2 separate regions of the Homo sapiens genome follow, and region 2 is linked to region 1. The links come from fine-mapping of genetic effects on gene expression. A gene starts in region 1. The other region holds a variant in brackets. All regions are shown on one strand. Distances are between the middles of the regions.

What was found. PIP is the estimated chance that this variant, and not a neighbour inherited with it, causes the effect. A credible set is the group of variants that fine-mapping cannot tell apart.
Region 2: its variant is the best candidate, but not a certain one, in a credible set for the expression of PLA2G12A in whole blood (TOPMed, PIP 0.52).

The regions. Positions count from the first base shown.
Region 1 is chr4:109,728,861-109,731,779 of GRCh38, forward strand. It overlaps PLA2G12A (phospholipase A2 group XIIA), which reads right to left and starts at 1,210. Exons shown (of 4, transcript NM_030821.5): 1 at 742-1,210. The coding sequence starts at 949. It also overlaps a transcript of CFI not described here. RefSeq lists enhancers at 599-668, 1,328-2,204 and a silencer at 999-1,338.
Region 2 is chr4:109,707,900-109,710,818 of GRCh38, forward strand. It overlaps PLA2G12A (phospholipase A2 group XIIA), which reads right to left. Exons shown (of 4, transcript NM_030821.5): 4 at 2,090-2,919. It also overlaps a transcript of CASP6 not described here. Among named protein-coding and RNA genes, the nearest start is that of CASP6, 5.9 kb to the left of the region's middle. The variant G/A (reference allele first, on the strand shown) is at 1,618.

The sequences.
Region 1 (2,919 bases):
TAAAATATTTAAGCACTCAAAAATGTGCTACAAAAGAACTATCTCTGCCTGAAATACTGAGTTGATTAGTACTCATACCGCCACCAAACAAATTCTCAGGTTCAAAGAGAAAGTTCAAAAAATATTAAAAGAGTAAATGAAGATAACTGTATTAACGTTAACCAACAATGAGGAGGAGGCGGGTCACTGATATCTAAGGAAAGAAGAGTTATCGGAACCCTTTCTCAACACTCGAGTACACCAAAAGTCTGTACAAAGGTCGCAAGTTATTGTCTATGGGTTTGCAGAAAAAAAACCATTTAATATCAATTATAGAGAAAGTTAATACGGCATGGTTTTTAAATTCTCAGTTTGCTTCGCATGTTCATCCAATTTACAGAAGCAAAAATGAGCTAAAACCAGTCTGTTCCACTCTATTCCCATGATTCCTACGTCAGTAAGTTCTTCGGCAACTTGGTGCAATTGAGGGGGGGAAAAGGTAATTCAGAAGCAATGCAAATGGGACGGGGGGTACACCTCTCCGTTAGAATGTGACCTCTCACATTCTAACAATAGTGGTGCGAACTTGTACCCAGCTTGCTCAATCACTAGAACGGCAAGATTCTAGCAGTGGTTAAGTTTTTCCACAGCCGAAGGACACCGTCAAGGTCTGCCTTGCATCTGTCACTCACACCTCCAGGATCTCCGTCACCCCAATCCCCCGAAAGCACGAGCCCTCGCTGGGCCCGGGTGCCCCCTCACCGTCACTGCATTTATACTGGCAGAGACCGTCCTCGCCTCCCAGGAGGTCCAAGGCGGCGTTCAGGTACGTGTCTATCTTATGAACGCCGTTCCGGATGGTCTTCAGGGTGGCTCTCCAGTCGGTGGTCTGGGCCTGCTCCTGGCACCTGACAACAGCGGCCATGAGGAGGAGCAGGAGGGTGAGCGCGGGGCGCGAGAGCAGGGCCATGCGCGCAGCGCCGGGCTCTACGGGTCCCCGAGCCGCGGCGCGGGGCGCGTCCCCACAGAGTCCCCAGGACGCGCTAGGCAGCGGCGCGGGCCCCGGACTTGGCAGCAGCCAGCTCCATATCCACGCCTCCTTCCCGGCTGGCCCTCAGGATCTCGCTGTCTTTACGTGAACCGCCTCGGGCAGGCAGCGCCGTCGCGGGGACGCGCCCGCTCACCTGGACCAGCGCGCCCGCTCACCTGGGCCAGCAACCGTCCCCTGTGCGCCTGCGCCGGAGCACGGCGCGTCAGCGGCGCACGGGAGGGGCGGGACGCGCAGGGGTGGGGCGGGGCGGGGGCGGGGTTGGGGGGGGCGGGGAACCGGGGGAGGGGCGCGCGGGGCGGGAAACGGGGGCGGGGCCTCCATGCCCACGTGGTCTCCGCGGCACCCTCCCAAGACCCTTGGTCCTGGTTCACAAGAGAACCTTAAAAAGTACCCAGGCCTGAGCCCCTTTTCTAGGGAGCCTGATTACGTTGTCCCAGGTGGCAGTGGGCGTCGGTATTTTTTAAGAAAGCTCTCCGGGCTGTTAACCGTGAAGCAAGAGTTGCAGAGCTAACCCCGGTGGCCTAACCTGACCAGTCGGGGCTCAGCACAGTAGCCCCGAGAGACAAGCTTTTCTGGGTGTGGACAACATCGGAGAAAATAACCCCTGTGCCCCCTCGCAGAGAGCGCTGCGAGAGGTCCAGCTGAGTTTCCGGCTTGAAGACGTGGTTCCATTGGCAATGTGGGCAGAGTCCGGCTGTCAGCTCGCAGAGCAGGGCTTTTCCTCCTTGCGTCCTCTCCCGGTCCTCCAGATCTGCTGTGGCCGCGGTTGGGGGAGCGGGATCTGGAAGATGCCAACCCATGCCTTGGCGGTGCCTGACTCTAATCAGGACGAGCTAAATGCTAGTTTAGACTTTCCGGAAAAAGAAAATGGGCCAACATAAAAATCATAAAATTCTCCCCTGGTAAGGAAGAAACAGTAGTGTAAACTTAAATACAGTAAAAAGTAAAATAAATCTTAAGGAAGTCATTGTTTTTCTACTCAAGGGATTTTGTAACTTGATAGTTACAGTGACGTTTGTTTCTCTGTACCTACCACCCTGCCCCCAGCATTGTGCGGGATCCATAAATAACTATTGCAGTAGTACTTTGTATCAGTTGTAAATATCTGGTTATCTTAGTATCACAGCAGTTTCCAAGAATTTTACAGTAAGATCCAGAGCAATGTTGAAAGTATTGGGCAGACCAAGCGCGGTGGTTTACGCCTGTAATCCCAGCACCTTGGGAGGCCTGGAACTCCTGAGGTCAGAAGTTCGAGACCAGCCTGGCTGACATGGTGAAACCCCATCTCTACCAAAAATACAGAAAATTAGCTGGGCGTGGTGGCGGGCACCTGTAATCCCAGCTACTCGGGAGGCGGAGGCAGGAGAATCACTTGAACCCAGGAGGTGGATGGATGTTGCAGTGAGCTGAGATTGCACCACTGCACTCCAGCTTGGGGCACAGAGCGAGACTCTAAAAAAAAAAGAAAGTGAGTAAGTATTGGGCATAGGTGTGTCCTTTCTATAAGAATTACCAATAAGTTCTAGGTTTGGCCTTTTGTGTTTGTTACAAACTAAATGAGCTTATAATAAACGTTCAGTGCACAGTTCATAAAAATTACATCCCTCTTTATTGAGTGCTTACTATGTGCCAGGCACTTCATGAATATGATCGCTCACATTCAGAACACTACTTTACAAGGATGCAGACTTTGGGCAAGTTAGAAACATAGAAAGGCATTCCTCCCTACAAACAGGGTAGCCCAACAAACGGTGTAGCTCCTGGCTGGAGACTGCCTGCACTTCACTCAGCCCCTCAACCAGGAGTCTTGGGCAGTGATTAATTCCTACCACAATGGAGAAGGGGGAAGAATGTTCCCTGGAAGGTATTATTATCTTCCTCTTTTACAA
Region 2 (2,919 bases), 21 kb before region 1:
ATTGTAAAAAATTTACTTTGACAATGCTTTCAGATTTGATGAAACGGTGGCTTTATCTTTTGTAATTCCTCTGGACCTTGTAATTTTAAAAGTAAGCAACCTTAGAGTGGGAAAAAAATTAAAATGTGTTAAGGCACCACTTCTAATATATTAAAATAAGTATAATGAATACTTAAGAAATAAGTATAAGGAACTCATCTCATACTATTATTTGGGAGAGAAAAAATCTAATTTGGTAACTTCTACATGTGCCTGTGGTTCAAGTCTTGATGTCATTAGAGTACGAAATCAAAGAAGGGTTTTTACTCAAACCATTTACTGTTCATTGTATGCATAAAATATTTCAGAAATCACTGTCTTAGTAACTTATCCTGCAACAAAGACATGGAATTTCCATATTTCCCTTGTATGGTGGTTGTGATGATTGGGTTAAGTGACTGTGAAGGACTCAGAATACTGCCTGCCATGTGAAGAGCTCAATGAATATTGGTTATTACCATCTTGTTGTACTCGTTGGAAACAGCAGTGGCATTTTTTGGTTTCCTCATTACCTACCCCAGTTGCCTTGCATGTGGCTCAATATTTAGCCATTGACTACAATTCAGGGTTTTCACATTTACACTCTGGCTTTTATCCAGTCTGAATGAGTTATCTGACCACCAGAACTTCCAGTCCTTTGGCCTCACTTTCAGGGTCTCTGAGTCCTGAAAACATTCCCTCGACAAGAGTGGAACTCCAGTTGGCTGACGTTCTACTTATCTGAAAAGAGCAGATGGAAGGAATTTGTCATTTTTTCTCCATAAGTATCTTATTATCTCAACATTACTACTATAGTCTATGTGGTTAAGTATTTTAAAACAATATTTTGTCTACCTTTTTTTCCCCTTATTCACCACTGATCAGGATTTTGTCTAAAAACATAAATACAGAACATTTTCTTGGGTACTTATTTCAGAATTACAAATGTATAATTTTAGCCTCTTAAAGCAACAGCTAGCCACAATAAAATGGCTGAGTGCCTGGGACTGGGAAACAGGCTGCCCAGGTTCTACTCACGGCTTCCCCATTTTATTTGCTGTTAGATATGTGACAGGTAATGCAACTTAACCTCTCATAGCTTCAAACTCTTTGTTGTAAAATGAGGTCCAAATCTATTCCAGAGTTTTTGAGACAGTAAATTGCAAACTCCTATGAAAGTACTGAACCCACAGCAAGCTTTCAGTACATTAGTTATTTTCAGCACTGAAGATTACCTAAACTACTTCCCAAGCTGTGGTCTATGAACCAGCAGTATCATCATCTGAGAACTTGTTAGAAATGCAAATTCTCCTGTCTACCCCAGACCTACTGAATCAGAAACTCTGGGGGTGGGGTCCAGCAGTGTGTTTTAACAAGCCTGCCAGTGAGTCTCACGCATGCTCATGTTTGAGAACCACCAACATAGACTGGAATCCTACCAAGCACTCTCTTCCCTCTCAAAGAAAAATATTCCCACAGCAAATCCATTAAAATTCAGATACACTAAGTTAACTGACAGGATGACTTGATTCTTCCTATATCTGAATAGTTTTCCATAAAAGTGACTTATTGAAACTGGTTTGCCCTCATATCTCAATC[G/A]TGTCTTCATTACAGCTTCTCTGTGCTCAATGTCTCCTTTATGAAATAAACAGCCATCTCTGTCCCTGGAAGAAATGTGCCAAAAGATTTTAAGGAGATAGGCATTATTCAAAGGCAATATATTATTTTAAAATATAAATAAAAGTGGAACTTATTAAAACTGAAGGTCTTGGCTTGTCACCTATCATAGGAATGAAATATAGGGAATAAAGTTAAGTTCAGAGATAATTCTACAACTTAAAAATTTTGGTCACTGATTTTGGTGTTTAATATTTTTTCTTACAGAATTCATAGAAATATTAATTTCTATGATGATTCTGATTGCTATACTTAAAACTTGAAAGCCAACAGAGAAATGTTTGTCAAGTTGTCAACAAGGAGATTTTTGAAGGATGTTATGGAAACTGAATAAGTAAGCCTGAGGCAAAAAGTCTAACATCATTGTGACATATATAAAAGATGACACTAGTGATCCCTTTACAGTTTTATTAATAATTATTATTTTTCGTATACCGGTTGCACTGATTCATTTTTGCTCTTTTATTTTTTAGGCAGATGGCTGGTTTTTGTAGGATTAAGCAGTGAGGAAAAACAGCAAACTAAAAATGCTACTTCAAATATAGCAACAGTCACTACATAAGGCTTAAATCAATATATTGCAAGTAATTTCTATGAATTTTGAACAATACAATGTAGTGTATGTGGAAAGATCTTGCCTAATAAGTTTCATTCTACTCCTCAAAGTTACTGAAGTCAGTCAACTATTAATAACAGAATTGTTTTTATAGAAAGATTCCATCTTCTTTACTGTTAGATGTTATACGTGTCTTGTACTAGGATAAAATAATGAGCATTGTGCATCGCACCTTCTGATAATCTCATACTTCTATAAATACTAAGATAAATAATCACTCTTTTAAATTTAGAGAGAGTTGGTTTTAGGCTAACAATTTTTTTTCTTCTTTCCAAGACAGAGTCTTATTCTGACGCCTATGCTGGAGTGCAGCAGTGCAATCTCAGCTCACTGCAACCTCTGCTTCCCAGGTTCAACCAATTCTTGTGCCTTCACCTCCCGAGTGGCTGGGATTACAGGCATGTGCCACCACACCCAACTAATTTTTGTATTTTTAGTAGAGACAGGGTTTTGCCATGTTGGCCAAGCTGGTCTCGAACTTCTGACTTTGAGTGATCTGTCCGCCTTGGCCTCCCACAGTGCTGAGATTACAGGCTTGAACCACCATGCCCAGCCTCTAACAACTAATTTTAATAAGTATTACTGGACTAGTCTACAGGTTCACTGAA